Regions from separate parts of the Homo sapiens genome. Here all the other regions are linked to region 2. Evidence: fine-mapped expression QTL. A gene starts in region 2. Each other region holds a variant in brackets. All regions are shown on one strand. Distances are between the middles of the regions.

What was found. PIP is the estimated chance that this variant, and not a neighbour inherited with it, causes the effect.
Region 1: its variant is the best candidate, but not a certain one, in a credible set for the expression of GPR141 in testis (GTEx, PIP 0.52).
Region 3: its variant is the best candidate, but not a certain one, in a credible set for the expression of GPR141 in monocytes after R848 (Quach 2016, PIP 0.74).
Region 4: its variant is the best candidate, but not a certain one, in a credible set for the expression of GPR141 in whole blood (INTERVAL, PIP 0.76).
Region 5: its variant is the best candidate, but not a certain one, in a credible set for the expression of GPR141 in whole blood (TOPMed, PIP 0.72).

Annotation. Positions count from the first base shown.
Region 1 is chr7:37,717,254-37,723,774 of GRCh38, forward strand. The region is part of intron 2 of GPR141 (G protein-coupled receptor 141); the gene reads left to right. Among named protein-coding and RNA genes, the nearest start is that of GPR141, 37 kb to the left of the region's middle. RefSeq lists a silencer at 1,419-1,478 and an enhancer at 1,769-1,878. The variant A/G (reference allele first, on the strand shown) is at 4,047.
Region 2 is chr7:37,681,297-37,687,817 of GRCh38, forward strand. It overlaps GPR141 (G protein-coupled receptor 141), which reads left to right and starts at 2,470. Exons shown (of 3, transcript NM_001381946.1): 1 at 2,470-2,607; 2 at 4,164-4,287. RefSeq lists an enhancer at 473-532.
Region 3 is chr7:37,641,752-37,648,272 of GRCh38, forward strand. No RefSeq gene overlaps it. Among named protein-coding and RNA genes, the nearest start is that of GPR141, 39 kb to the right of the region's middle. The variant TA/T (reference allele first, on the strand shown) is at 3,823.
Region 4 is chr7:37,724,617-37,731,137 of GRCh38, forward strand. The region is part of intron 2 of GPR141 (G protein-coupled receptor 141); the gene reads left to right. Among named protein-coding and RNA genes, the nearest start is that of GPR141, 44 kb to the left of the region's middle. RefSeq lists a silencer at 4,421-4,530. The variant CAGTT/C (reference allele first, on the strand shown) is at 3,720.
Region 5 is chr7:37,825,593-37,832,113 of GRCh38, forward strand. No RefSeq gene overlaps it. Among named protein-coding and RNA genes, the nearest start is that of NME8, 20 kb to the right of the region's middle. The variant G/A (reference allele first, on the strand shown) is at 3,248.

The DNA of each region.
Region 1 (6,521 bases), 36 kb after region 2:
AAAGCTACAAAAGGAAAGCTCAGTTTCTTTCTTCTACATTTAAAGTAGGTGGCCTAAAACTGAACCAATAAAAGATAATTGCAAATATATTTCTTATTGAAATCTCCCTTTCCCCCAAAGGTTAAGAGGATTGAGGACATTTCTGAAAAAGGAGGAGTAGATAGTCAAAATCTAGGTGGAGGTTGTGTATTTGCTGATTGATGCATTTCAGACCATAATGGAGAAGACCACTTTGTTCATTAACAAACGTTTCCATATCAGTGCCTGCCTTTTGTGGCTCATGCTGTCCATCCCTGACATTTTCTGCCCCCTCTTTCTTTCTCTCACCCCCCTTGTTGTGTACTAAATCCTTTCTGCCTTTAAGTGTCACTCCAAAACCAGCTTCCTGCATGAAGCCTTCTCAGATTCCCCCTTCTCCCAGTTTGGCTTGTTCTCCCACAACAATGCTCTGATGCACTATCTTATTTTACCTTCATGAATTTCTACAACATGCATCTGTCTCCTTCACTAAATTATAAGCTCCTTGAGGGCAGGACTGCTCTTCTTTTACTGTGTGTCCCTCCTTCGTTACTGAACAATCTTTATACATCTCTTGGGCAAACACATATATCTTAAATCTGATTGTTTACATTGCTCATGAGTATAATTGTTAAATATAATTGTGTGATAAATGTACCAGGAAGTGGATCCCCTGGTCTAATTGCCTTGCGAAGTATTCTTTCTTCTCTCTGGGGTGAAATAAGTCAATTATATTGAAAGTTAGAATTGTTAAAAAGTTTATAACTAGTAAGGGTGATTAGAAGCCCTAAATTCAGCAAATGTTCAGCAAAGTATTTGGTGTTTACTAGGTATCTAGTATCATGCTAGTGATGAACTAAATAGTCACTCTCAGCACCCTCATGGGGACTATAGTCTAGTGAGGAAAATGGTCAATTCATATGCGAATTAGCAAATAGATTCACAGATAGACATTGTATAAGTGCTATAAAGAAATTAAACAGTTCCAGTGATTTGAGAGGCTGATGTGAGAGGATCACTTGAGGCCAGACGTTCAAGGCCACCTGGGCAACATAACAAGACTCCATCTGTACAAAAACTACAAAAATTAGCAGGCATGGTGGCGTGTGCCTGTAATCCTAGCTACTCTAGCTACTTGAGAGGCTGTGACAGGAGGATTGCTTGATCCCAGGAGTTCGAGGCTACAGTGAGCTATGAACCACTGCACTCCAGCCTGGGAAACAAAGTGAGACTCTGTCTCGAAGGAAGGAAGAAAGGAAGGAAGGAAGGAAGGAAGGAAGGAAGGAAAGAAAGAAGGAAGGGATTCTAGAAAAGAAGGTTTAGAGAAAATGTGGGTTAGAAAGTCATTTCTGCTGATGAGCTTGATTTAAGACAAATTGAGCTATCCTCATTTATGGAGATGCATGAAAAAGCCACTGGTTGGCAAAGGAAACAACATTTGCCCTGAGCATAAATGAGAGAGAAACTGATACTAGAGCCCTGTCTACATCCACTTAACAATTGCTCTTCTGAGATCACAAGGGTGATAGAGCCTATGTAGATCTCCCTGGCTCATTGAACCTTAACCAAGGGCTTCTGTTAGGCTTTGAATGCACACCAGCGACATAGAACTGAAGATGCAGTATCTTAAGCAGGGCTCACATTTGTTTTATTTTAGGCTTCCCTGATAAGTTGTGTGTGCGTGTATATGTGTTGCAGGGTGGGGGATAGGGTTGGAGGGCATTATGGAGGCAAGAAGAATAAGCTTTCTTGCCTGTGCGTGAAGAGTTTCACCAGACGATTTCAGCTTTCTCCTGTGACCTGGGAAAGCTGTGATGTGGAGCATGGCCAGTTTATACTTAAAAATGTCCACACAGTTCTGGTTGGTTCTGCCATGCCAGAATCAAAGGTTGGACCCGGAAACAAATGCCTTTGGCTGCTTGGTAACCAGCACTATCACAAGACAGTTGTGTTGATTGAGCCTAAGGTGGAAGTCTGTGTGAGCTATGAGAGGTGGTAAGATATGACTGCAAAAGCCAGGGCTTTGTCAAATCATACACTCTTGGGATTAGTCATCTTGTCTGACCATCAGACTCAGTGATAAGTTTTTGTATCTTGCAAGTTTTCAATTTGGCAAGAAGTTTCCTGATAATGCTTGGATATCTGCATCTCTTCTTCCTTCATCCAGCATTGATGGTTAGTAGCTTCTTCTAACCATTCTAACATGGATCTCATCTTGTATTTAATAATTGACAGATGGGTCCTCTCCCATCTTATATGGAGGATCAAAATGATTCTAGCAACTTAGTTCCTTTCCTCAAAAATATTGACACTCACCTTTGCCACACACGTCTGCGAATTATGAGTTATTGTTGTAAGGGACTAAACTGTCTAATCTTAGAGTTCGCCTTGGCCATATTTAGAATGTACAGTTCATAGGCAGCTGAGCAGAAAACCAGAAAAAGGGGGCTGAGAATTAGGTGAGAAACTGAGGAAATGAGTGAAATTAGTGATTCTCCACCCAGTCAGGAATTTTTTTTTGAAAAACATTCCTTCGACTCCTGTGAGATACAGCAGGGAATGAGCTTATTGGAAGAGATGAGGGAATGAGAGTGTGAGGAGGAGCTTGAATCCTTCCAGAGATCCCATTAGAAATAAGGCAAGGATGGGGGAGCCAGGGCAGCCTTTGGAAATGGGGAGCAGCAGGAATAATGGGGAAAGCAGCCCCCAGAGAGTGTCAGGGCCAGCCTGGAACCAGCCTCTGAAGGGGTGACCAGTCTTGGAGGGTTACTGGTCAAAGAGGAACATCTAAACTACTGCCAGGGCAACGACATGAAAGAAAAGGGTTCCAGGGTGTCGGGAGATTGATGGGGTTCAGGAAGGCTTGGGACTCAGCAGGGCCTGGGAGGTGAACCAGGAGTTGGGCAGAAGGCAGGCAGAGAAAAGGTGTGCCATGACTCAAGCCTGGCACTTTCAAAAGAGGGCCTGCCCCAGGCACTCATCCTGGGTTCACAGGGCACAGGGCGGCAGGCACTTAGAGATACCAGACCCTGGTGCCCATCAATGGCTTTACATGGCCCACCTTGGGCTAGGTCTTCCTGGAGCTGAGCATGTGAATTGAGCACACCATAATAATCTCTGAGTGTAGTTTCCAGTTTCAACAAAAGCAGAGAGTTAAGTACTTAAGAGTTCAAAAAGGAAAAGAAATTAGGCCGGCACCATGGCTCATGCCTGTAATCCCAGCACTTTGGGAGGCCGAAGCAGATGGATCACAAGGTCAGGAGATCGAGACCATCCTGGCTAACATGGTGAAACCCCTTCTCTACTAAAATACAAAAAAATTAGCCAGGGGTGGTGGTGGGCACCTGTACTCCCAGCTACTCAGGAGGCTGAGGCAGGAGAATGGCGTGAACCCGGAAGGCGGAGCTTGCAGTGAGCTGAGATTGCGCCACTGCACTCCAGGCTGGGCAAAAGCCAGACTCCGTCTCAAAAAAAAAAAAAAAAAAGAGAAATTAAGAAAAGGGTTCAGAACCCTCTCTGGGATACATTAAATTTGGGGAATTAAATTTTTAGTGCAGTTTTATTTTTCTCTTACATTGCAATCTGATGAACTGCTTTTCAAACATTTATTGGCTTTAGAGAACTTGAGTAGGCCTGTTTTAATTACTTCTCCAAGTCCTCTTCTAGTATTCTAATTAACTGCTTTTCAATACCCTGATAATTGGTCATAGAGATACAAACAATACAGTTGAAAAACAAGGACCAATTGTCTAGGGGAATCCACAGCTCCGAAGGAGAGCAGGGATGGAGCAGTGAAGAAATGTCACTTTTTCTCTTTTTTCATAGGAAAGGGACTTCTGTGTTGCTGTGACCCTGTGATGTGCTGCAGAACATTTAGGCTTCAGAGTCAAACAGCCTGGGTCTCCAATTTCAGGGCTGTCATTTGTTAGTTGAGTGAACCCAGAAAGTTGCTTAACTTTTCCGAGCTTCATTTCTTCAACTAATATTTGGAATAAAAGTACCCTTGTCCTGGATTTCTTGGGAGGATT[A/G]TAAGTATCATATAAGAAATTTCCATCTTAGTGCCAGGAACTGAAGAGGCACTCAGGACCTGGTGACAAAAGTTATCAATACATTATGCTACAATAGATGTGCCCGTTATTGGTGAAAAGGCATAAACCTAGAGGTACCTGGGGCTGAAGACAGAGTAAGGGTTATCTTGGACAGATTGGCCTGGTTAATGTCTCAGTAGCTTTGATTTAAGAAAGGTCTTCTCTGAACGGCTTTCCCTTTGGTGGTGTGGTGTTTTCCATCCATAGATGTTGGTTACTTCTACAGATGAAATGCCCATTAGAAACATGCCCAACGTGTCCTAAAATTATTTTCCATTCTTGGTCCTCCCTAGATTTTTTGTTGGCGTGGCAGCTGAACTTGTTGGCAGATTATATTGGGCTCCAAGACAAAGGTTGACAATTTCTCCACGTCTCTGTTTGGGTGTAAAGTGGAGACACAATTTTTAGAACTTCTGGGAGAGTCTTCTCTCACTGTCAGCCTAGACTGTGGAGGCCTGAAAGTATGGTGTCTGTCTCAGGGGGCAATGGGTTACTTGAAGGATATATTTTATCCACAGCCTTTTTTGTCTTGTTCATTTCAGAATTTTGCCTACAAGTATATTTCACCTACAGTGAATAAAGATTAATGGTTGATTGAAGTCATCTGGATAACATATTGGAAAACTTCTTGACAGGAATAGTTTAAATTAGAAAGCAGAAATAAACTTTTGACTTTAAGGAAATATTTCATGTCTGTCAACATAAAGCAACTTGGCACTATTAATCTATATCCACAAATACTTTCATGTCATATGACCACTTTTTTATTGGACACCACCTTCTGGAAAAATCTAAAATATGTAAAACACTAAATTCACAAAAGTGATTGTCCTAGAGTTATTTATAACAATAAGTTAGAAACATAACATCATTGAAAATTTGATTAAATCACTTTGGAGACATCCACTTGATGAGATGTTATACGGTCGTATAAAAGTGCACGGAAACAGGTCAGGCATGCTGGCTTGCATCTGCAGTCCCAGCTACTTGGGAGGTTGAGGCAGGAGGATGACTTGAGGCCAGGAGCTTGAGACCAGCCTAAGCACTATAGTAAGGTTCCCTCTCTTAAAAAAAAAAAAAAGCCGGGCACAGTAGCTCACCCCTCTAATCCCAGCACTTTGGGAGGCCAAGGTGGGCAGATCACTTGAGGTCAGGAGTTCGAGACTAGCCTGGCCAACATGGTGAAACCCCGTCTCTACTAAAAATACAAAAATTAGCTGAGCATGGTTGCAGGTGCCTGTAATCCCAGCTGCTTGGGAGGTTGATGCAGGAAAATTGCTTGAACCCAGGAGGTGGAGGTTGCAGTGAGCCAACTTATGCCACTGCACTCCAGCCTGGGTGACAGAGCCAGACTCCATCTCAAAAAAAAAAAAAAAAAAGTTCAGAAACTCCAAGGCTAAGTACTTTGGTATTATACATTACTAGCAAAAAACATGGTTTGAAAATTGAGGTGCAATATTATCACTATCTAACAATCTAACACAGATGCATAGAAAGATATTAGCAGAAAATACACTAATATTTTAAAAAGTGGAAAAATTCTGTTCTAATTTTTCTTTTTCCTTTCCTTCCTTCCTTCCTTCCTTCCTTCCTTCCTTCCTTCCTTCCTTCCTTCCTTCCTTCTTTCTTTCTTTCTTTTTTTTTTTTGACAGAGTCTCAGTCTGTTGCCCAGGTTGGAGTACAGTGGTATCTTGTACCACTTGGCTCATTATAACCTCTGCCTCCTGGGTTCAAGTGATTCTCTTGCCTCAGCATCCTGAGTAGCTGGGACTACAGGAGTGTGTTACCACACCTGGCTAATTTTTGTATTTTTAGTACAGACGGGATTTCACCATGTTGGCCATGCTCATCTTGAGCTCCTAACCTCAGGTGATCCACCCACCTCGGCCTCCCAAAGTGCCTGGATTATAGACATGAGCCACCGTGCCTGGCCTAAGAGTCCAGAAATGCCTAATTTTTCTTTAGTGCCTTTTAGTTGCCTCTTTTTTTATTAATATAAAAAATACCAGAAACACTGAGAAAATAAAAAGAAATAAAACCCTAGAAGTTACTAGGAAGAAAAAAAAAAAGTGAATGGCACGGAAGATGAGCAAGCAGATAGTGAAATGCCTGAAGTGGACATGGTGAGGGAGGGAGGAAACTATGATACTGGGTGAAGCACAGAGTGAATCTTGTGAAATGGTGATGTGAAAAGCAGCCTCCTTTAGTGATGTCCTATTCTTGCTCTATCACATTTTAGTGCTTCATGGGCCATAAGGAGGCTTGGAGGCAAGGAAGTTACCAGCATTGTTGGATACCACGTTTTGCCTGTCTGAAGGCCTCGTCCCTTACATGTCCGTATAGACATGTTTCTCTGTCTTTTGAGGTTGGGTGGATTAAGTAGGCCAGATGGTGTGTCAAAGGTGGCAACAAGGC
Region 2 (6,521 bases):
AAATTTTCTATATTTTGTGTACTCTCTTCAAACATTGATTACAGCTATTTTAAAACCAATCAATTCTGAATGCCCTTGTGCATTTGTTTCTATTTTCTGTTTATTTTCATGGTCTGTTTTTCTAGACTTATCTTCAGACATGGCTTTTAATAGTTATTGAAATTTGGACATTGTGTTTAAAAAGTTTGAGAGTCAATTCATTGATCTGGTTAGTGTTATCGTCCTCCAGAGAGTATTTACTTTTGCTTGATGTGTGTGAGGAGGTCGTTATGACGATGGCAAATCTCCTATCTATTCAGTGATTGTCTACCTAATTCAGCAATTTAGGTGATTTGAAATTGGGCTCCCACTTTGTGATGGTACAATATTTTTAGCACATGCTGTCTCCTAGGGTGTAGCCCTTCAGGGGTCCTAACTGAAAATTTGAGGTAATTATAAGGGCACCACCTCCTTGGTGGTCTCTGTTTGCTTCTTAAACTAGATTTCCTTAACTTCTGAGCATCTTAGCCACTGTATTTCACCTGTTTCTTCACCTCTCAGTGTCCAGTTTCAAATCAGCAGTGCCTTGAGTAAAAAGTACTCAGGAGTTGAAAATCAGATTCACTGATTTGTACTTCCTGTCTTCTGGGGATTTTATTTCTTCAAGGTGTCATTGCCTGGGCAGCTTTCTGAAGCCTTCAAACTTATAGGTTTTGCATTCTGTTCATTTTTGTAAGCTGCTCTCAGCAGGAGGGTTTGTCAGCAACAATCTTCTCTACAACTAATAAAGCTTGAAATATCTCTAGCATGAGTTATTTTGAAGCAGATAGCATTTTAACTCATATGGCAGAAAGAACGCACATCTGCTGAAATTGAAGAGTTTCCTGATGCAGAGGCCTTCTCTTCAAACTAAGAAACAAAGTTGGAAGCACTTAGAACATTATGTTTGGAGTAAGAAATGTGAATACTGATGAAAACAGAACTGCAAAAATTTCGCCTAAAATAATGAGTGTTTTAGCACTGTAAAGAATACCAGGAATCACCCCAAATTACCAAAGTTATCATTCTACTTAGGGACCTTAAAATAGAAAGAACCCAGGGCCAGTATCATTTTGATGCCTTTTAAAATTTCTTTTTGAAATAGTGAAATGTCACAATGGATTTTAAAAATAGGGGAATGTTGAAAATGTTGATATTTAATAAATTAGTACTTTTTAATTGACCAATTTCTATATAATATTAACATGCTGTCTACATCAGGAGTTCTCAACCCCTGGGCCACAGACCAGCAGTGGTTCGTGGCCTGTTAGGAACTGGGCTGTACAGAAGGAGCGGAGCAGTGCACGAGTGGGCCAGCAAAGTTTCGTCTATATTTACAGCTGCTCCCCATCACTTGCATTACTGCCTGAGCTCCACCTCCTGTTAGATCAGCAGCGGCATTAGATTCTCATGGGAGCATGAACCTTATTGTTGAATTGTCCATGCTAGGGATCTAGGTTGCAGTGTTCCTTATGAGAATCTAATGTCTGATGATCTATCATTGTCTTCCATCACCCCCAAATGGGACCATCTAGTTGCAGAAAAACAACCTCAGGGCTTCCACTGATTCTACATTATGATGAGTTGTATAATTATTTCATTATATATTATCATGTAATAACAATTGAAATAAAGTGCGCAATAAATGTAATGTGCTTGAATCATCCAGAAAACATCCCCACCCCTGTCTGTGGAAAAATTGTCTTCCATGAAACCTTTCCCTGGTGCCAAAAAAGGTTGGGGACCACCGATTTACATAATTAGAAAGTTTATAAAATCCTAATTTATAGAGTGGTCATCAAATGGTAGGAAAGTTCAAGCAGTTTGAGGAACTGATGTTTTTTTTTCTCAATACTTGCAGTGCATCTCTATGACTGTATGGGCAGCTTCTTCTGGAGATAATGTTGACAGTCTAAAAAGTTAAGCTGTGACGATTTACTCCCCTCCCCTGCCCCTATAGCACACTCTGATTTTAAATATTTTCTCTCTTAATTCTAATTAAATGACATAATTATAGTGCCATATCCCAGTCAATGCCATTTATCAGTGACAGCTAATTAACACAATTATAAAAGTGGGAGCCCTAAGTTACCAGTGAGGTATAGAGCAACTCTGGAAATTTTCTCCTTACTGAAAGGAAATATTACACATATTCCTTCACCAGAAGAACAATACACAGTTTACCTTCCCTTTTTGTTTTTGATAATACCACTTTGTTCCCCATTCTCTACAAAATTTAGTTTGAAGAACATTTTAAAAACTTGATTCATCGTAGTCATCAATCCTTCATAAATATTTCTTGACAATTGGCCTCTCTGTAGTTTGCAACCTGGACTACTCATGTTTAAGAGCTTGGTTTTTCAAGACTATTGTGTTTCAAATGGTTTTGAGGTTTTATGGTCTGTTGACATTCTGAGGAACTTAGAACACATTCACTTCCTTTTGCTTGGTGAGCTGTCCAGAGCCTTTGCAAATGCATGCAGAGCATGGAAATGACCCAGCTGCCCTGCTGTTGAAACAGAATCCTATTTGGAAGGCAGACATGTGGCCCATCTCTGTAGCCATCACTGAGAAATCTGGATTTTCAAGGTAAGTGCAGATGACTTAGGTTTGGGGAGACATGAATGAAAGTGCTATAGAAATAAAGCACACTTAATTTGTTGGCATAGTCCTAATTCAGAATCTTCAAATGGTTCTGCTCTAAAAAGCAAGCTTATTCTCTGACCACAACTCCTCCTTTATAGAAAGAATTGTTCTATTCTTACTGCTTAGGATATGCTGCTCTGAAAGTAAAACCTAATATTTATGGGTAAATGTGAACAAAAATGATTTCAGAATCTCTCTGTCAAAAAACCAGCTAAACATATCATAGAATTTTTTAGAGCAGTTGGCACTATTGAATTTGTGTATAATTATTCAAATGCTTATCTTTTAAGTGATGTCTTAATTTCCTTTTGTTATGAAAATCCTTTAACTCTATTACTGCATTATTTTCAGATAGAGTTTGAAACTATTCAGGCAGCCCTAGTCAATAGAAGGAAACAATCTGTAAGCAATCAAGTACTTAGAAATTTCTAAAAGAAGTATATTCAAAATAACATGTGAAATAATGGTAATTATAATTCTTTCCATCCCACTTTTAAAGTACTACTTAACAGGAAGGATCTGAAAATAACTTCTTAAATAAGATAAATAAAAAGAACAACATCTGTTCAAATAATTTTACTTTAAGTAAAATACTTTCTATACCAGTATTTTCTACTTCCAAGAAGTAATATTTTTCAAATATGTGGAATGAAATATAATGCAAAGTTTTTAAACAATAAGTCAGTAATGCCTAACCTGAATATAGGCATTTAATTTTGTTTCTTTTACAAATTTGTTATATGACTTTTGATAGGTCACTTAATTCTCTGGACTTCAGCGTTCTACATAACTGCACAATTACTTATCTGAGAAATTACTTATTAAGTACTCCAGAATTACATGTCTTTGTTTTCTGTTTTATTGGGTTTAAATCAGTTAATTAGGATTTTAATCAGTCAATAGAAGTAATGGGAAGACCAATGGATGAGGAATCAGGTGGTGTGAATTCTAGTCCTCTGTTTTCTAGTAATTGGCTGCATAATTTGGGGGAATATTGTCTAAGGATTCCAGACCAGGGGTTGGCAAACTTTTTCTACAAAAGCCTTGATAGTAAATATTTTAGGCTTTGCAAGCCAAGAGGTAGAACTGAGGCTAATATATTGGTACTTACATAACCATTTAAAACTATAAAAACCATTCGTAGCTCACAGGCTGTATAAAAACAAGAAGTGAGCCAGCTTTGGCTTAGGTGACACAATTTTCCAACTATTCTTCTAGCAATGATTTTCAACAATTATAAAATGGAAGTTGTAGACTGGATAAGAGATGCTCAGCTAAGGGAGTTCCTGGATGGTCTTTAGATTGATACACCAATCCTCTGAAATTGCATGCAAAAATGTAAGTGTGTGTTTTTCTTTTCTTCCTTTTGTGCGTGTGTGTGTTTCTCTCCCTCCCTCCTTCCTTCCTGCCTGCCTGCCTGCCTGCCTGCCTGCCTTCCTGCCTTCTTCCCTCCCTCCCTCCCTCCATCTCTCTCTCTCTTTCTCTCTTTCTTTCTTCAGGGCCTTTCTCTCTGTTGCCCAGGCTGGAGTTTAGCGACTCAATCATGGCTCACTGACTGCAGCATCGACCTCCGGGGCTCAAGTGATCCTTTCATCTCAGCCTCCTCAGTAGCTGAGACTACAGGTACTTGCCACCACACCTGGCTAATTAATTAATTTTTTTTTTTAAATAGAGACAGGGTCTTGCTCATGTTGCCCAGGTTAGTCTCAAACTCCTGGGCACAAGTGATCCTCCTGCCTTGGCTTTTCAGAGTACTGGGATAACAAACATGAGCCACTGTGCCTGGCAGCACTTTTTTTTTTTTTTTTTTTTTTTTAAATAAGAAAAACACGGATTGATTTTCAAAGTGGTCCAAAATCCAATTGTAGTTAAGGACCACAGGTCTAGCTAATTTCTAAAAGTGCTTTCCAAATTTAAAATCAATGAGCCTGTGAAATGTTTACTGGTGTCTACTATGGGTAAGCCATTGTGCTAGCACTATAAGAGACGTAGCATGTTGTGACTAAAATAATGTGTTAAATATATTGTTAAATAATATGTTAAAAAATATATTTTTGGGACAGGGCCTCGCTCTGTCTCCAAGGCAGGAGTGCAGTGGCACAATCACAGCTCACTGAAGCCTTCACCTCCTGGAATCAAGTGGTCCTCTCACTTCAGCCTTCCGAATAGCTGGGAGTGCAGGTGTGAGCCACCCTGCCTGCCTTTTTTTTTTTTTTTTTTCTTTAGAGAGGGGGTCTCACTATGTTGCCAAGGCTGGTCTCAAATCCCTGGGCTCAAGCAGTCTTCCTGACTCAGACTCAGACTAAAAATATTTTAAAGAAGTTAGAATATGTGCAAGTCTGTGCTGTCTTTCAAAGTAATAACATTGAAAACAATTTTCAATTGATCAAAGATTTCTGAGACATTGCTTTGCAAAGTGTTTTCAAAGCTAGTTCATACGTTATACCAAAGTATTTTCCAAATTATGTTATTGTCCCATCTTATTTTGAATGACAATGTTATTATTCGTGACAGTCATAATCAAACTTAATCTAAGCATAGTCTGTTTCCTAAAAACATAATTTCCTTAAGGGCAGGAACTATGCCTTTGCTACCTTTATATTTTAGAACAGGGTTTGACCCATAATAAGTACCCAGCATCTTTGGAATGGTTATATGAGTGAATAAGTGAATGAAATGATGAAGGTATTATCATGGAGATTACGTACCATAGATAGTGAAGGCTTGGAACTCCAGATGGTCTAAAAGCAGTAGTTGCTAAGTCCAAAGATGGCTTCTCTTTTCAAAATTGGATGTAACTGTGATTTCAAAATAATTGGCCAACTCAATATTGCAGTTCCTGATGATTAAGTCACTTTTTAAAAAGAGTGAAATTTGTGGAATTTAATTAACATAGGAGAGAGAAATACTTTTTACAAGGTTGCTAGTAACCTACTCTCTGGGATGGCGTGAGTGGAGAGTGAAATTTTGTTAATGAAAAGCATTGCCATCAGCATCTGAGCCCCTCGTGTCCTGAGACTGGGTAGAAGATAGTATCAGCTGGAACATCATGCATAACTGGTAGCTTTTCTGGGAAATCCAAAAGTCAAGTCTGGTAGAATTTAGGGCACCACTCTGCTCCCTGATAAAGAAGTTCAGACTGAGCTCCACTGCCTGCCCAATTGATGATGTCAGTCGGAGCACTGTTTCCTGGGAATTTCCCACAGCTACCCAGGGCAGGGGAATAACTTGTGATCAATCAAATTGTAGCTCTGTTCTCACTCCAGGAACAATTCCACTAAAGGAAATCCAATCTATAATATCTAGTATATGATTCATTCACTTCTTAGGGAAATTTAAGATTTAAAATGTTGAGAAATGGTAATGAAAAACCTGAGTAGCTTTGTATATAGTTGGTGTCATGCCTGAGACATCCTTATTCAAAAAAGTGCCTCTCACCTCTACTCTTGTCATCCTCTCATCTCAGAAGCTGTTAGGAAATAGAAATATACTATTTGCTTTGGGATACAATTATACAGTGAGCCTGTGCAGTATCACTCTATATTAAATAGCACCATTTTCTTCACACATTTAGCAGTTCTACTGAGGACATATTCCCGGATCTCCTTAAGGATTGAGATAAGTCCCAAATATAATCCAAAGACCACATGCTTCATGAATGGGAGCTCGAATATGTCTTATGATCCAAGGTCTCACTTGGATGTGGCAGGAAGCTTAGTCCCCTCTCTGAGGATTTCTGAGACTCCCTGGGCAGTGCTTGCATGTTCTACAAATTCAAGACTGGTAGCACACACTCCTCTCGCTTCGACTGCTGTCCCAAGCTCCATTTTCAGATGACCCCTGCACTTCCCTGGAAG
Region 3 (6,521 bases), 40 kb before region 2:
AGTCAGGAGGAACAGGATCAGGCATCTGCTTAAAGAGGCAGTATGGCTGCCCCTTGGCAGAGCAGGTGCACTGCACTGACTACCTGACCTCTCCAGAACCGGCATCCTGGCAGACTCTATCCCAGGGAGAAATCAGAGTTCTGTCTGTATAAACCTGGCTGGAGTTGCTGAAATTCCCACAGGGAGGCCCCACCAGTGAGGAGGGATAAATTGGGATCCCACTTAAAGAAGCAGACTGGCCATGATGAGGCACAGCAGTTGTGCTGAGTTGTGGGGAATTCCTCCCAGTCTCCAGTGCTGGCCCGTTAGAATGGCCTACTCCAACTGCAGGTATAGCGGCTACCCCTCCCACTGGGAACTCAGTCTGTCTCAGGTTGCTGTCTCAGTCTTTCCAGACTGCTGCCACTGGCTGGCTGGAATTCTAAGCCAGTGGGTCTTAATTTGTGAGGTGCTGTGGGAGTGGGGCCCACAGAACAACACCGCTTGGCTTCCTGGATTCAGCCTCCTTCCTAGGGGAATGCACGGGATCTCTCGCCTTGCCTGAATTCTTGTGGCCAGAGTATGCAAAACTCCCAGGTTTCCCTGCGTGCCTGAGCAAGCAAGCAAGTGAGTGAGCAGCTGCTCAGCTGAGACTCTGCACAGCTCTGTGCTTTGGATCCAAGGCCCTTGTGATGTGGGCTCAAGAGGGGATCTCTTGATCCATGAGTTGCAAAGATCCATAGGGAAAGAGTGGTTTCCTGGGCAGGGTTGCATAATCACTCACTGCCTCCCTTGGCTGGGGGCATGGGCTTCCCTTGTTCCATGGGACTCCTGGGTGTGCTGTCACCCCACCTGCTTTTCCTCACTCTCTGTGGGTCAAGCCATCTGCCTAGTCAGTCCCAATGTGAGAACCTGGATACCTCAGGTTGAAGGTGCAGAATTCACTGGCCATTTTGTGAGAGCTGGGACTACAACTGCTTCTAATGGGCCATCTTTGCCCCTCCTCCAAATTTGGTTTTCTAAGAATTAAGTTTCTTTTGTCAAGAAGTATCACAAAATTGAAAAGCAAAGAACACATATGAAAAGCAAAGAACACATATAAAATATGACAATATAAAAATATATTTGTCATACTTATGACAGCATTTTATATATGTAAATATGTGTGCATCTATCTAGCTAGGTAGTACTAATACATGTCAACCTAAAATTAATATGAAAAATAGGAAGCTTTGGTGAAAAATTTGTCAAAGAAAATGAATAAGGAACTCACAAAATTGCTAGTTCTGATCAGTGAACATTAAAGAATGCTAAACCTTATTAGTAAAAGAAATTCAAATTGAAAGTAAAATCTTTTGCTTATCAGTTGTTAAGAATTAAAATTATTAAAACACCCAGTTTTGGCAACAGTGTGTTAAAAGACATTTTTTCATGGAAGATGCATGTGGTGGCACACAGTTTCTGGAAGGCTGTTTGGCAATATGTCAACATTAATATATCCTTTGACTCAGCATTTCTACCTTAAGGGTTTACTCGGAAAATAGCTAAACACACAAAGATGTGCACATCATAAGTATAAGAATATACACTGCAGTTTTTTATAATTGTAGCAAATGTGATAATAAATTACATTTTTCAATTTAGAAAATTGTAAGATATGGGGCAAAAAATTATGCCACATCACTGCAATATTGCAATGCTGTGTACATTGTAATTATGCAGCCATTTTAAAAGATGAGCTAGATCAATACCTCTTGTCTTGGAAAGATGCTGTACTATATTATTAAATGTAAAAATAGGTTATAGACTAATACATTTAAAAATTACTCAATTTTTGTAAATATGTCTCTCTATATACATTTGTATATAGAAGCACAGAAAATATTCAGGAGCAAAGACACCAGCCTGCTACCAGTGGATATCTCTGGGTAATGTGATTACAGTGAGACTTTCACTATTTACTTTATTCATTTATGTATCTATTTGAATTGTTTTTTCAATGTATATGTATAACTTTAATTTTCGACAGAGTATAAAATACAGAAAGGTATAGAGAACAAATGACTTTATTTATAACTAGAATTTGAGGAGTCTGTCTCCAGGTTAAAATCTTACATATATTTTAGGCCTAACCATGGGCAAATGCAAGGCTTAGCCTGGAGCTTTATGGGAGGAAATGGCTTTTCCTACAGACTTGGTGCACAGCCAGCGCATTGCAGTTCTCTGCAGGGAGTTGCAGTCAAGAATTCATCCCCTCTCCCCACCACCACCAGCCATGCTCACCTGCATATCTAATTCCTCACCCTGCTGCTGCCATCCAGAGGCCTCTTGCTCAGCAGCCTTGACTGAAGCACTTTTCCTCATTTTGACTTAGTACTTTCTTCCTTAAAGCCCTTCTCCTCTTCTCCCAGGTCCATGGGTCCATGAAGAGACAAAGGCCTTTTGTTTGGGGCTTTTCAGCAGTGAGATGACTCCCCCTCATTCTTGAACCTCACCCAGTTCCATTCTGTGGAGGAAAAATGAAACACTGGGGGAGGTGGAGCCCCTTTGCACCTCTTGCTTGCATTGTTGTGTAAGTGAATAGGAAGCTTGATTGTTGCTTTCAGTTTGTCTTGTTGACTGAATTTTCCACCTTGACACCTGATTGCTCTACAGAGTTAACGGTTAACATTTTCTTAGATTTTTTTAAATAAAGGAAGAAAACATAAAATACCTTAGATAGAGTTGAAGTCTTATTTATTTTTTCCAGTTCTTTTCTCTCCAGAGTTAACCACAATTAATTTGATATGTGCCATTTCTGAACACATGCACACACACATACAGAATGCATAATTTTAAAACAATATACATATACACACATTTGTGTATTAGAACAGCGTTGTTTTATCATTCTGAGTACCTACTCAGGAAAGGGTAAGAGGCTAATTCTGTTTCTTCTCAATATATACATATACATATACATATACATATACATATACATATACATATACATATACATAATTTTTAACAGTATTTTTATTCAGAAAATGAAGACATTTATATTAATAAACTATTAGGTGAAGCAACTTTGTTCTTCCAATGAGGGTATCATAATGTATAATTCATACGCTGGACTGCTCAAGGGGGTGCTAAAAATGTCCAATTTGTAAGTTTAATCCATTAGATAGTATATCAACACAGCTAAATTCACAATAGACTAAACGATTGATGCAGTGTTTTGATCAGAACAGTTAGGTCCTTAAAGGGCTTTTGTGATCTCATGCTTTCCAGCCATCAATGCTGAATTTCTTTAAGGTCTCAAACATTCCACCATCTTTGGTAGTTCTCTTGCTATATACATTCTGTTGCCTTGCCTACAATGCTTTCTTCCATACACCTTTTATCTGGAAAACTTCTACTTTTGCCCTAAAATTTTAGTCCCAGTATTTTACTATAATTATCTAAATAACATCTTAAATAAAGACTTTGAGAAGGGAAATATTTAATTTAATTTTTATATACATGAAGTTTACCCGATAACCAGAAAACATGAGTGCAACTTTACATTTGCAGCATGGTTCTGAAATTAAACCTTAGCAAGAAAGACTGAGAAGCAATAGAATTAGCCTCTTACCCTTTCCTGAGTAGATACTAAGGATGGTAGAGAAAGATGTTCTAGGAAATCTACATTGACTGCTTAATACATTTTGCAGTAACTCCATGGGGCAGCTAATACCTCATTAAACAGATTGAGAAAGTGAAACTTAAAACTATTAAGGACAGATATCGGTGTGATGATGCAGTATGAAGTCAGCATTTCAACCACCTTTTCTAGAAAACCAACAAAAAGCAACATGGAGATAT[TA/T]AAAAAAAAAAAAACAGAAATGTAAACTCTTAAAAAAAAAAAGGAGACGTGAAATGCCAAACCACAAAATAGGTGGAAAAAGGACCCAGCAAAGTGCAAATTAGGAGGGAAAGGGGAAAGCAGAATCCTCTCAGGAGCCACACAGGGACAGATGGATTCTAGAGCCTGTAAAGCCAAAGGTGTGCACGGACTCTCAGGCTGATGATGGAAGCCTGGGTTTCAGAAGCCAGAGAGGCAGAAATGAAGCCGACGTAGAGAAGCTGTGGTTACTAGAAATAGTCATCCATGTGGAGGAGTTACGCAGAAACTGTGGCTTGGTGGACAACTGCACAGCTGCCTAGCTTCATTTTCTGGGAAGAAGCAAAGGCCAAATATTGAATACAGAAGTCCTCAAGTCACGAGAAATGTTTTCTAAAACAAGGCCTGGTACTTCCCATAGTCCCTGTTTCCTGAAAATAGCTGATTCTGAAAAGATGCCAAGTCAAATCAACCAAATAGATGTCTGAAACAAAACAGGAATCAGAATAATACCTGTATAATAATGCTACAAGAAAAGAAGTACAGAGAAAGAGAAAGGAAAAGCAAATAGCAAATAAAGAACGGTTACCTGAAAAATTTTGCCATGGAGAAGGTCTAACGTTATGACCTGTTATATAGCTACAAATTTAAATATATTTAGAAAGAAATTCCATATATATACACACATGTATATACACACACATATACACACATATATACACACATGCATGTATACACACATGTGTATATATAAATATATGTGTATACATATATGTGTATATATACATACACGTGTGTATATATACACATATATGTGTATATATGCTGAAGTCAGTGATCAGAGATGTTGAGAGAAAAGGAGATGAAGTGACGTTTTCTGGTGGAACTCAGAAAAATGTAGAAGACTAAAATTAAAATATAAATAAAAGCATTTGGAAACAACTCTGGGGAGAAAATATACTGTTGAATGAAAAAACACAGAACATAAAAGACAGGAACAAGAAAGCCCAGCAAAATGAAATAGGAATAAAGAGTTAAAAAGGATTAGAGAGAAAGGATTGATATAGAACAGGGGTTGACAGTAGTGATATTTTCAGATTTGAAGGCCATATGTTCTCTGTCATAATAACTCAATCCTATTATTGCAGTATGAAAATAGTCATAAACAATAGCTTGTATTCCAGTAAAATTTATTTACAAAGACAGGTGGTATGCTGAATTTGGCCAATGAGACATACCTTGCTGACACCTGAAACAGAGGATAGGCAAAAGAGATTTAATATCTTTTAAAATTGGAGTCTTAGAAGAAGAAATGGAGGTATACAGATATTCTACAATATGATTCAAGGTAATATTCCAAAATATAGAAGGTAACTTGAATCTATGCTTGATAAGGCATATAATGATCTAGGAAAAATAGAGATGTGTCAAAATGGAGAATGATTTCAGTAGACCTATTAGGTTTCCAAGGAAAAAAATCTTTAGGTGAGCCAGACTAAAAGGATCTACTAACTTATAATTAAACAAACAAACAAGCAAGTCGGGTTGTCTCAGATACAACACAACCTTCTAAATCGGTCAAAATATCCTCAGGGAAAAAGTCCTTATGGAAAGAAAGTGAGAAAATATTTTTTTAAAGCCAAGTCAAACTGCCATGCCAATGTGAAGTGGAGAAAGATGTGGTTAAAAACATGCAAATGTCCAGGGAATGTTGTTCCTATAAATATTATCCCTGTGTCTTCTTGAAGACACTACTTGAGATTGTCAACGAATTAAGAGATAAATGGAAACAGTATGGTTAAAGACATGTAAATGTTATAAACTCTGACAATATTAATATGATGTTACTAATAAGAATTAGCAGGTGTTCTAGGCCGGGTGTGGTGGCTCACGCCTGTAATCCCAGCACTTTGGGAGGCCGAGGCAGGCGGATCACGAGGTCAGGAGATCGAGACCATCCTGGCTAACACGGTGAAACCCCGTCTTTACTAAAAATACAAAAAATTAGCCAGGCGTCGTGGCGGGCGCCTGTAGTCCCAGCTACTTGGGAGGCTGAGGCAGGAAAACGGCGTGAACCCAGGAGGCGGAGCTTGCAGTGAGCCGAGATCGCACCACTGCACTCCAGCCTGGGCGAAAGAGCGAGACTCCATCTCAAAAAAAAAAAAAAAAAAAAAAAAAAAAAAGCATTGGTAGGTGCTCAAAATTTCTTGATGGTCTTATCTATCTTTTCATTCCCAGGAACCAAAAGACATCATTTTAAATAAATAAACCAAGTAGTAGAGGAATATGTATATTTAACAACACAAAACACATAATGAGAAGGCAAAAACCAAACTGTTGTGACAGAGGAGATAGGTAAGGAGAAAGGGGGTACTTTCTCAATTAGTCATTGCTCAGAGTGGGGAATTATCAAAATCAGACCAACAAAAGTTTCCTGATATTATATTATTATGAAATAGAAGATTCAGACTATTACTGATATTATAAAAAGCCACAAAGTAACCATTAGAAGAAAAATACAGGCTTTCCAATTATCAGAAGAAGCACATACTCTCAAACAAAACAAAGAGCCCAATAGTCTCAGATTTAAAAACAGAATTATAAAAGCAGAAAGTATGTCACAAAGGAGAGCTAAATCCTAACATAACTATCATACTGATAAATGCAAATTATATTTACA
Region 4 (6,521 bases), 43 kb after region 2:
CTGCTGCTTGAGTTTCCCTGAGTGAGTGATTAAAGTGACTGTTCCTATTTGTTTTCTGCAAACACAACAAACTATAATTCGTTCTAAGGAGAGCTCAAAGGCAGGAAGCCATTTGTCTGCTGACAACCTTTTCTCAGAACAACCTGTGATGCCTCTTCTAGCTGGGGCTGGACATCCATCCTGGCTCCCAACTGGTGTCCTTGAGGTGGGGCCTATGGGGCTGGACTTAAAGCATAGTTCTCTTGATTAGAAGCTGCCGTCTGTCCTGCTGGGCCTCTGGAGTCTGCCTTTAGTAGTGCTGTGTCACAGGAATAGTCCCAGACTGAGACACAGAACCTGGAATTTAGCCAGTGACAAGCCGTGCTAGCTTTCAAAGGTCGCTGTGTGGGCCTCGGTGTCTTCCTTAGTTAAATGGGTGCACTGGATGCTATAATCTCTAGGTTTCACTCTGACACTAAGAATTTGTGATTTTTTCTTCTGATTCCTGGTCCAAGGGTTCCTTCTCTCCTGGAGATGGAGACACCATGACCACTCTCATGGATCTTTTCTTCTTGGAAGAAGGGGTGAATATAGAGAATGACAAAGAAAAAGTGAGATGACAGTGATCAGTGTTATGAAGAACATGGCTTGGGTAGGGCTGGTTCCTTGTATTGAGTGGTCAAGAATCAAGAAGGTGAATCTGCAGTCCCATCTGTTCAAGGTGCAGCAGAAAGAAGTGAAGCCAGGGATGGAGCGGGGAGCAAGGAGGAATGAGCGGCCACATCAGAGGGACCAGGCCTGCGAACTTGAGCAGGGTGAGGCATCCAGGGCTCCTGGTTCCTGGCACGGCATCCTCCTAGTCCTCTAACCAGGGAGTTTCCTGCTCTGCCCTTGATATGAATGAATGAAGGCAGTCACCGGCAGCATTGATTCTCTGTCAATAATTCTCCCCCTCCTCCCTCATCCCCAAGGCTCAGCTCAGACGCAATTTCTTTCTCTCTTTTTTTGCACAATGGCTTTACTGAAATATAATTCACCAACTATAAAAGTCATTCTTTTTTCAAAGGACAACTTTATGGTTGGTGAACCACAATTCAGTGGTTTTTAGTGTAGTCACAGAGTGATAGACAAAATTTCTTCTTTTTGTAGGTGGAAGAAGGAACAAATTATAAATTGTGTGATTTCAGATGTCTGGACTTTTCATTCTTTTATTTTAAAATATGTCTATTTACCATGTTTGCTTTGTTTTTTTTTTTCCTTCCTGCCTCTGTTACTGCTATTACTGTGTTCCATTTTTCCTTCTCATAATTTGCAAGCCATACATGCAACTTTGGTTCACTAATTGATTGCTCTTAAGTTTTCATCAAGAAGTTATATTCATTTTTATTTCTCTACACTTAAACAGTACCTTTAACCTCCTCCCCACCAAAAAATACTGAGATATTCACATACAATTTCTCTCTTTTATTTCCCTCACTGCCACCATGTGGAAACCAATGGGTGTTTTAATTTGGTATGAACATGAGCATTTTAGGTTTAAAATGTGTTTCACTGCATTTTGACTGTAGGAAGTGAGATCAAAGGACAGAGAGCGGGGAGGAGGGATCACATCCTGTAAGGCCTTTCAGACCATTTCCAAATCTTGATTTGATTCTGAGAAAGGTGAGAAGCCATTGGAGGATTGAGATAAGAAGAATGACATCTTCTAATTTACATTCTGAAAGATTACTCTGGTTGCTGAGTTGGGAATAGGGGAGTTAGGAGTAAAAAATGGGAGAATTCATGGGCTTGCTGTAATAATCCCATTAAGAGTTAATGTGGCTGAATCCCAGTTGTTGCAATTTAGGCAATGAAGAGTTGACCAACTCTATGTTTATTTTATGTAATTTTTCATAATTTTTAAATTTAGAAATAATTTTACACAAAACATTTACAATGTTAGAAGAATGATAAAGAGCTCCAATATAACCTTCACCCAGATTCCCCAATTGTAATCTTTTCCACATTGGTTTTTCTCTTTTTGTATATCCATATTGTAATTTTTTGGATTGATTTGATAATAAATAGAAAGCATGCTGCCTTTATCCTTATAGTATGTGGTGTATATTATATAAGAACAGGATATTCTCTTATACAACCACATACAATGGTCAAGATCAGGAAAATAACATTGATACAATTCTATTATTTAATCTGCAGACTGTGTTAATATTTGGCCAATTATACCAGTAATATCCTTTATAGAAAAAATCTGGCCCATGGACTCTATGTGGACTAATATGAGAGACAGGGGATAGGAGTTGCTGAAGGAGTGGAGGTGAATTATGGGAGAAAAAGAGGAATTAGGGATAATTGTAAGATTTTTCACGTATGCAAATAGAAAATGGAGTTCGTATTACTAGTTAAACTGCGAGGACTTTGCAAGGAAGAAGTTTTTGTGTATGTCTGGGGCACAGTTCAGCCTTGGATATACTAAGTTTGAGATGTTTATTATACATCGAAGTGGATATGCTAATTTGTTCTTTGTGATTTGAAATAACATCTTTATGTGTCTAAATCTGAGTCTTTTCTAGTAGTTTAGCTCAGTGCTGGGTGGGACCTTTCAACATAAACATTTTATCTTTTCTATGTGTAGAAAATGTCCTTTAATTATTTATCTGAGCATTTCATTCTCTTTTGCTGTCTCCAGATGATGTTGGAACTTCTATTAATAGTTTTGTTCTTGGGGTTTTTTAGCTTTTCTTTTAAATCTTCCATCTCTTGACCTTTTTTGCTTCTATCTGTGGGAGTATTCTCAACCTTCTTACAAGCTCATTGATTGTGTGGTTTGGTACATTTTAATTAAAATAACAACTCTGAGTCTTATTTCACACCATTCTCTTCTCTCTGAGGACATTTTAAAGTTACTTTTTTCCACTTTGCCCTCTTAGCAAACCAACCCATCTGTTAGTTCTTTTGTCTGGGAAATTTGGTATCCATCTAATGTGTCATTAGCTCTCCTAAAATATCCAGTGACTGTTCTTTGTCTTTTTACTGTTGAATGTGGATGAAGTTACCTGAAGCATGTACTTTTCTTTTCCAAGCCCAGACTCTTCAATTTTTGTTTAATTTGGGGGCAAGCTCTCCTAGGTGGGTGTCATCTTGCTCCAATCCTTATAATATTTAAACTTGAATAACCCTTTGCCAACTATCCAATCTGTTGCCAAAACAAGCTTTCAAAATTGAAATATTAAGATGTCATTTAGTATTCTAAAATTCCCTGCATCCCTCATAATTTTCAGAATAAAATTGAAAATCCTTAGAGTGGCAACATGCCGTAAATATGGGAATCCTCATGTACAGATTCTCACCCACGTTCTCCTAATATGTCAAATGTTCCAGGTACATCAAACTATTGGTAATTCCCCGAATGTGCATCCAAGCCTTTGCCCAGAATCTTCTCTTTCCCTGGAGTGCTTTATTTCCTCCTCTCTACATCTAGAACTTCAATGCACCCTTCAAGATCCAGTAACTGCTACATATCTGTACCCAAGCATCTTTTACTTTATTTTGATGCCTTCATCCTCAAGTACCTCTTAAATAATTACTGCTCTTTCTGAATTCTTGCAGCATTTTTCACGTACCCATAGGTGTTTCTGTAAATAATTGATGTGCCTCTTTCTCTCCTACCAAACAGGAGATTTAAAAGCGGTGATGTGTTTTATTCATTTCAGAATCTTTGCTACCTACTGTACAGTAGA[CAGTT/C]AGAGTGATATCACTTGTTTAATAAATTAAGTGAGAAATCCCAAAGTAGGTTATACTTGTTTGTCTGTTTTAAAATGGTGCAGGGAGGGGTTCTGGTGACTAAGGTCTACACGCTAATGAGCATTTGGATTATTTAATGTTATTTTTCAGGGTTCTATAAATTGTGTAGGACTCTCATTTTGTAGGCTGGTCTCTGATGTTGGCTCTACCATAGGTTTCTTATAAAACAGCCACAGAAACCACTTCCATATCTCACTTTTGACATTGATGTAGTCCTCAGGCCATGGACAATGACCACTGAGACCCAAGCAAGGTTGTGGGCAAGGCTTTGGGAAGGGGGTTGATAAGATACAAGGGAATAGCCACCAGCCAGGCCTCAGGAAGACCTGAGGAGCTCTCTTGTGTGTGGGATGAGATCAGACCAGAATCACAAGAGAATCATGCAGGCAGGATGGGAGAATCCTGGTGCACCAGGATAGGGCAGAGGCTTGTTTAGAGCTACAAATACCAGCAAGGCCTGGCCTGGTATGTCAGGTCAGCTAATATGTCAGTTCCCACAGCTCCCATAGACAATGGGATGCCAGGGAAAGTTTTTAAAAAGAGAAGTGAAATCATTGATGATGCAATTTGGACTTCATTCTAGTTGTTTAGCTGTACATTTGGGTCCTAGAGAAACAAGAAGCAAGCTGGAGGTATGAAAGAGAACATTCCAAGAATGACAGGTAAGTCTGAGTCACAGCTCGAGGCTGAAGGAAGGGGGTTAGAGAGGAGGTGTCCCTTGAAATAGAAGCTGAGGCCAGCTTGCAAAGGGCTTACATGTCATGGTAGGAACTCAGAGTTTTTTCTTTTCTCTAACAGTAACCAAAGAAGGATTTTAAGCAGAGACATGACAGAGGGCAGGGGAAAATCAGAGTTTGAGGCCAGGCTTCATGATGACCTTCCAAGGTCAATCACAGAGGTAAAGAGGGGATCCTCATGTGGAACAAGGAGGTCCACAGCCAGCCAGAGAGGCAGCCCTGTCCCCTGAGAGAGCTGGCTCTGGGTTTGCAGTTTATTTCTGGGATCCTGATGTCAGTTGTTGGTCTAGATCCAAATGTGGCCATATCCAAAAAATGTTTAATCCAGTCAGGGCACTTTTTCACCATTATTTCACCCATTCAGTTAACAACTCATGACCACTATTTAAAAATTATATGCTAGTTTTGAAAGAAATTCAAAGTTAAAAACAAGTCCACAAATGACTAAAATAATTAAAACAGAGAATAAGACAACAAAGGTAGGACTGAAAGGCACCTGTAAAGCTTTTTGAGAAAGGAGCTGAGAATGTCCCGGGGGCCTGAAGGGCTTGAAAGAAAATGCAGTCTGTGTTTACACCTCAAAGATGTGCAAGACTGTGTGAGTGGGGGTAATATTTTGGGAAGAGAAAGCGCAATGAAGATATATAGGTGAAATATCTAAGTAGCATCAACAAATAACTGTTGTTAATGTTGTTTAAAAAACAATTCCCTGGCTTCTTGTATTTGGAATGGATTGTCTCCGTGGAAGCAGAAACTACCTCTCTCTTACCTTCTTTCAGGTTTTCCTGGGATCAGCTGCACTCCTTAGCAAAAGTATATTGGAGAATCAACTGAGAAAGTAACTGAGACATTTCAATCATTTCTAGGTGTAAAGAAAGACCAGATCCCAGGAAAATATTACGGTCAGTTCAATGCCTAAGTATAACACCAGCATCACTGGCTGGGACCCTCAGAACCTACTCTCCTATTTTCCCTTCATCTTCTTCTCTTCTTTCTTTTTCTTATTCCTTTTCTTTGTTTCCCCCCTTCTTTCTCTTCTCTCTTTTCCTCCCTCACTTTCTTGATCTCTCGCTCTCTTTCATGAATTCACTGAATCATTGCAGAAGTACTTGACACATACCATGTTCCAAATTCTGAGCTACGGCACATGCTATATTTTTCTACAAAATAAAGTGTGAGGTGGATCTCTAAATAATAATAACAAGTGTATCTCAAACAGTCTATCCTGGGCACCTTGTAAGCTTCAGTTGTTTTCTCTTCAAAGTGCCTGTGTCCCAAAGCTCAGGACAAATTTCAAAACCTGAACCTGAATATTAAGAAATCTAAACATATATCATCTAAAGCTGGCATCCAGGAAAACAGAGCTTTTCGTTTGATCAGAGACTGCATATTTCTTACCTGCAAGTGTTTGTTTTAACCACACTTGGCAGGTTCTGTATATAACACGCGTCAAAGCCATCAGTTGCACTTGTTTTTGTGACTGCAGGTGCTGGCTTGCTTGTTCCAGGGTCCCAGGGCCCGGCCATGGCCATGGTGTTTGTCTCTCAGGCTTGTCTGTCTCATACCTGGCAGGCTCACTGCTTCACAGCTCACTGTGTCTCTCAGACATTCTCTTGGCTTTCCCACAGTCTCAGGGACTGTTCTAAATAGCAAGCTAATATTCTGAAGTGAGGTATTGGAAGCATTTCTGAGAAGCATTTATTATTTTTGTATGTGCTCAATTTTTTAGCAATGAAGACATTTCCTTTCAAGGTTGTTAAGCTTTGAACTTTCCATTTTGTGAAAAGGCTCGAAATTTCCTTCATTCTTTGTGGGCATCCAACTCTAACAGACACATAAATTAATAGACTAGGAAATATTTAACGGTCTAAGTTCAAACAAATATGTTTACTTTGGCTGAATTGATGTTGCTATTAATTGCTATTGAAATAAACCACTGTACAAAGAAATATGCCCTGGAGGATAAATGTGACACTGCTAAAATTAAAACTCAAATGAGAA
Region 5 (6,521 bases), 140 kb after region 2:
TATGCTCCATGCTCAGCTCCACCTTATTGTGTTCTAGTCTTACCTCTAGTCCTTTATGGACAGTGGCGGGAGTGATTAATTACTCCTATGCATCTGTTGCAAGAACTCATATGCCAGGATTTCAGGATGCTCCTTTTCTATCTCCAGACTGATTATGAGACTCCTCTTAACCAACTCCCCTGTCATCTTACCTGTGCCTCTATTGCAGTGACTGTCATTTGGCAAGCTATGACATAGTACCAGACAGGGAAATCATAAAGAGAGAAAACTAAATTATACTTCTCTCTGTGTCCTCATGCTCTAGAATAATGCCTTGCTGTTCAATAAATATTTGCCAGGGAATAAATGAATGAAGAAATAAGCTGAGCAATTTCCTAACATTTTTCCCTTTAGAAAACAGAAAAAAAGGTTGAAATCTGAACTCATACCTGAACCAATCCCAGTTGACCATTTTCTACTAGTGACATTAGTGTTGCCATTGAAATAGTATAAACATAAAATGAAAGTTTGATAAAGTCACCTCTGATAAAAATACATAATATATAACATGTATAACATCACAGAATATATATTATATACATGTGTATTATAAGAGCTGTCTTTTTTATCTTATATATGTATATACATATCTTACATATACATGTATGTGTGTATATACATGTGTGTGTATATCTATCTATAGATACACACATGCACACATATATACGATAAGAAAGGAGCTTAACAGGCAGTGATATGTAGATTTCTCTCCAATGAAGCCTGAAATTATTTTGCGTGAACAACTACAAATGAGATGTGTTACTTTTACTGCGGACTGTTTACATGAGCATAAACTGGATGCTTTAATCCTTTGTTATTTTTTCTTGCATTTCATACAAATTTTTAAATAGTTGTGATTACAGATTGACTGGATAAAGTCACGGCCAATGGATATGGATTTTTAAAATGGTAACATTTTTGCACCACAGGGATCCTCAAAGATGCTTGTAATAGAAATAATTTGCATAAAGACGCTAGAAAAGTTATTGAAAATATAAGCTATTTAAATACATAAAATGGAGAAAAACAATATATGGAAAGGCTGTATTTTTTCTTTCGGTCATGCTAGAGGAAGCGCCCCTCCTCTCATCTGACGTATTTTCTTCACCTGCACCTCCCATCTTCTATTTCTTCAACTTCTACTCTCCTGACTGTTAAAAATCAGCATTTAAATATAGTATTATAGTCAAACTTCTTCCTCCTTGTTTAAAAAAGAAAAACGAGCCCTCCAGCACTCACATTTTTTGGGCAACTGTCTCTTCTCTGTTTCCATTTCTTCACCCTTACGCTTCTGGAAATAGTTGCTGATTCTGTCTCCACCTCCTGTCTTTATAGTCTCTCAAGGGACTTTCCCAGACCACGCTACTGAAGACACTCTTATGATCACCACTGGCATCTTTGTTGCTCAGTCCACGTGAGTGACATTTTATTTGGCCAGATCTTGTTTTATTTGGCCACTCTGTAACACTTGGCAATAGTATTGCTGCCTCAGCAGCATCTCATTCTTTGATTTTTATGACATCACTTCTTGGTTCTTCTCCTGCCTTTTTGGCTGTTCCTCCTCATTTTCCTTCATCAGCTTTACTTTCATGACCTGTTCCTGAAAGTTGATGTTCCTAGCGTATCCTCCTGGACCCTCACTTTCTCAAACTACACAAATTTCTTGGCCATCTCCTCTGCTTCTATTCCCCTAATGTGCTGATTATCAACACATCTATATCTCCAGCCCAGGTATTTCCTAAGTATCTTTCATATCCAGTAGTCTCCAATGTGTTGTGTACGCCTTGCCTGGGGTGTGCAATATAAACCTATGAGGCTACACAAAGAAAAATACATGTATATTTTTGTTGATTTTCTTATCTGAAATATGAGAAAAGATAGTGCTAATTTATTAATGGTTATCATATGCATCATCAGTAGTGTCCTCAATGGCTTTTCGTCCTCCTGTTTCCAGTTCGCACGGACACACTTTGTCTCTGGTTTTTCAACCACCACACATATGCAAAGGTACCAGGAAGCTCAAGGTTTGTTGAGTGTCTCCTACAAGGAGCTGGTCACATAGGAACATCCCAGCTATTGGTCAGCCTTGACCATTAAGCTCCCTCTCCCTCCTTATCCCTGGGCTCCAGCAAAACCAGGTGGTATAGGTCTAAATCCAGTTATTATTCCTGAGCAATGCTGATAAACTGGTATGTCCACTCCAAAACAACTCGCAAACCAATGGTTACAGAATATTATTTACTGGTTATCTCATGGCAAAGTTCATTTTTATTTTGTAAAAATAAAATGTTTTAAATTTGAGGACACGTGGCTGTCTAAATTTTGCTATCTAAGAGGTATATTTGAAAAAATTATCATCATTATCTATTCCCCCAAGATTAAAGTGATGTTTTGAAACAGTGAAAAAATTACTGCTTTTTGAAATAACTCATGGTGAGGAGGTGGAAATGTATGAAAACCAATATTTGAAATTTTTCTATAATTAACATGGCTTAATAGTGAAAATGAGCATGACTTATAAACCCGCTCACAATTACACCCTTAAAATACCTTAGCATCACAAATTTTCTATTGTGTTAAAAAATTTCCCCAAAAGTTACATTTTTAAGTCATTTGTCAAATGCAAACCCCTCCCATTTATTTGGTAGAAAAAGCAATTTAGATTTTTTAGGATGTTGAAAAGTTACAGAGTAATTGTAACAAAAGTCTTTTCATAATTTTTGGAAGATACTGAAAGATAAATATCTTTTGTTTTAAATGGCATTTTCTTGTGAGAAAGTATTTTCAGCATTGAAATAAATTTAAAACTTAGAAGCAGGCATTTGAATCACTCCATCACACAATATTAAATCAAGATTTCAAAAACAATGAAATCATATTTCAATTACATTTCTCACTAAATATTAATAACATTAATATTTGTTTAAGCATTTAAATATTAATAACATTAATATTTGGAGAAAGCCATGAAGTTCTGAACTAGTACGTAATAAATAAGACGCAACAAGTAAAAAATAGCATATATTTATATATTTAATCAGATCATAATCTGAGTTAACGTTTTTGTTGTTTTTTAACTTTTTTTTTTTTTTTTTTTTTTGGTAGAATCAGGGTCTCACTATTTTTCCCAGGCTGGTCTTAAACTCCTGGCTCCTGGGCTCAAGTGACCCACCCACCTCAGCCTACCCAAAGTGCTGGGATTACAAGC[G/A]TGTGCTACCACACTCGACCCATTTTTGGTTTTGTTTAAGCATTATAACATGCAGAAGTGATGAGTAATAGGAAAAATATTTAATCTATTAAGACATAAAGATATCTAATTTGATGTGCAGGTTTAAATAGTTTTACTGGTGTAAATGTGTTGTCAGGTACCTCCTAATCCTCTTGTGGATCCATATACTTTCTTCTGTTTTTCCTTCAGTCTTGCAGCAGACCACCCATCTCACTTTGATTCCCCCAGTTTTTCTGTTTTTCCATCCTGTCCTCTCTCCTTCAACCCATTCTCCAGTCCCAGTCAGAGTAGGGTTTCTAAAATGTAAAAATGAGCAGTCACTTTGCTCAGTAGAAGGCTGCGGTGGTTTTGCTTGCCCTCAGGCTGTATACCCAGTTCTTCATACCTCTCCCAGGCTCCTCCAGATCTGCCTCCTGCTGACCTTGTACCCAGCTGCAGCGACACCGAGCTCCTCACAGCTTCCCAAAGTGGGCTGGCCCCTCTCACGACAGGGTCATCGCACAGGCTCCCTCTGTGGGGGAACACAACGGGAGTCATTTCAACACCACTTTCTTCAGGAAGCCTATTCTGATCCTTGGTACTCCAAGCAGCTGTTGTCAATGCCTACCCCAGGTGATACCATGCCATACTGATTTTATTTTCCTGGATACTTAATCACAGGTAAAGTCACTGAGGCCACACAACCCTGAGGAGAAAATGCTTGAGCAGGCAGGATTTTGATGATATTTTGTGGATGATACTCCATTCTCAAACTGCCTACATTCACACTTCTTTTCACCGAGAGAAAATTAAGCCACTATGCTTTTAAACCATTCTTACTTGGGTTTTGTGTAACATGCAGCAACATGGAATTATTACGGATACAATTGGTTCTGACTTGTATGGATACACTTATAGAAAAACGTGTGAGGATATATTGAACAGCAAAGTACTGATTTTTTTCTTATTTTGATTTGTCTCTGATGAACACATATTTCTTTATGTAAATGTATTAGAAGGAATTAATAAGAATATGTTGAGGAACAAATAAATTGCCAAATCCCAGTGGCGTAGCACACTGATGGTTGATTTGTCCGTCACACAAAGGCCCATGCAGGTTAACTAGGGCTAGCTCGAGCCAGTGACTCAAAGATCCAGGCTCCTTCTGTCTTGTGATTATTAAGGGTAGTAAAGAAAAGAGAATGTGGCGGTGGCAGACCCCCTGCTAGAAACTGAAGGTGCCATTTCTAGTCACAGGCCACTGGCTAGACTACATCACATGACCTTGCCTGTCAGGAACTAGCATTGCAGACTTACCAGCATGACCGAGAAGGAAATGAGAGCATATGTAGGGAAGCACGCATTGTCTCTACCAAAATGAAAATGGAAGTTTAAAAATGCAAGTACTCATGGGAAAGGTAACACACTGCACATCTTAGCCACTGTCTTCCCTGACTGCAATGGCAGAGGGTAGAAGGGGAGGGAAGAGGTGCGCATATATGGAGGCGCATGTAGATTCTTTACAATTTGTCTCAGGTGAGGAAGGGTTAATGTGTGTGCTCAGATGTGCCAGTGAGTAAAGAAAAGAGTATGTTTTCAAGCTTCGCACCAAATGTGAAAGTCACTTGTTTCTTTTTTCCCTTTTAATTCTAAATCTGAGAAAAAGCAGTGCTCCGCTTTGAATTTCAAATGTCTTCAACATTGAAGTCTGTTAATCAGGCTATTTTCTTATCAGCTCTGAGTCTCAAATGCTGCATCTATAAGAAGAGAAGTCCTTTCCAGTTCTAAGAGCAGTGACTGTGTGTGGCTTCAGGAATGATAATTACACATTCCAAAATGCATCCTGGATTAATTTCTTAATTCACATCTACCAGAGATGTGAGTACCCAATGCTTAAAGAACTATGGTTCCATGACTAACAAGAAGTGATTCACTGAGCCCAACAAGCAATCTAATCTAATTGCCTCTAAGTGTTGTTTAGTAGGGGTAACTTTGGCTATTTTAATGAAATGTGAATTTTTAGAAATTATAGACAACAAAACAAATGTGTGTTCAGCAATTCCTGCCTACAGGAGTTCACACTCACTTAAGGAAGGCAAGGCACGTGCAGTTGAAACAACTAGCGAAAAAACAATTCTAAATAAACTAGCGTTGTATACCGATATAATTAAGTGCTAAAGTGTGCAGTTCAATCAGATAATATAAGATTTGGAAAAGAAAGGTGATAAAGTATGCCCCCAGACAAAATGGACTCCCTGTGGCTAACTGAGGAGCTCAAAGTTAAAACAGAACTAGGTGTCCATAGCTGGGTGACAGAATGGTCACATGTTCTGCGCTCTCAGAAAGATGTTGTAAAAGTATCAAAGGACCTCCCATTCTACAATCAAGCTGAACCAGCTCCTGTTCTGTTGTTGGGCTACAAGATAAACTGCTGCAAAAAGCACAGCACCTGCCCACACCTCCCAGTGCCGCAAGCCCCAGGCCCCATTGGCCATTTGAAAGAAACATCTGACAGGGACTGCTGGTTTGGGGCTTGGGAAGCAACCAGAGATCACCTCCCCTAGCCAATTAAGGCTCAGCTGTTTGGGCCAATCAGAACTCAGCTCTGTCAGCCAGTCAAAACCAAACAAGACTCAACCCTTTGTTTGCATAAATAGACCTGGTTGGGAACCTGGGTGGGGACTTTTCCTATAAAACCCCAGGCATGCCATCCCTTCATTCTCTGGAATGGACCTTCATTTTACACAGCGGCCTGCATGTCTGCCTGATTTGCAAACAGTTCTCTGGAATAAAATCTCTTTCCTCCAGATTCTTTTTCAGAGAGCTTTTGTTCACAAAGGGGATAAAAAGATTAAGCTAAGATGAAAATCAGAAAAAAAAAAATAGAATCACTGCAATAATAAGGCTCATTATTTCCAAGATTTTTATGTATCCTGGTCTGAGTATGTCCGTCCTTAAAGCATATGAACTGAAAAGAATAGGAATTGGATTTATGGGTTTTGATCCATTTAAAATATCAGTATTACAAAGTTTTCTAGTGAAGTTAAACGAATGCCCGCAAGTAATTTTTTTACAGAAACCCAGTTGAGAAGGGCTGCAAGAATTAAGAGTATTTTGAAAATATACCAGAGTAAGCAAAAATTGCAACATATGATGGTTAAAAAAAAAAGCTCAGTAGTATATCATATTAAAGATTTATATATTAAATATAACAGAATTTAGAAATTATTTATGTGTATGGGACACTGTTTTTATCATTTTTTCACGTAGAGTT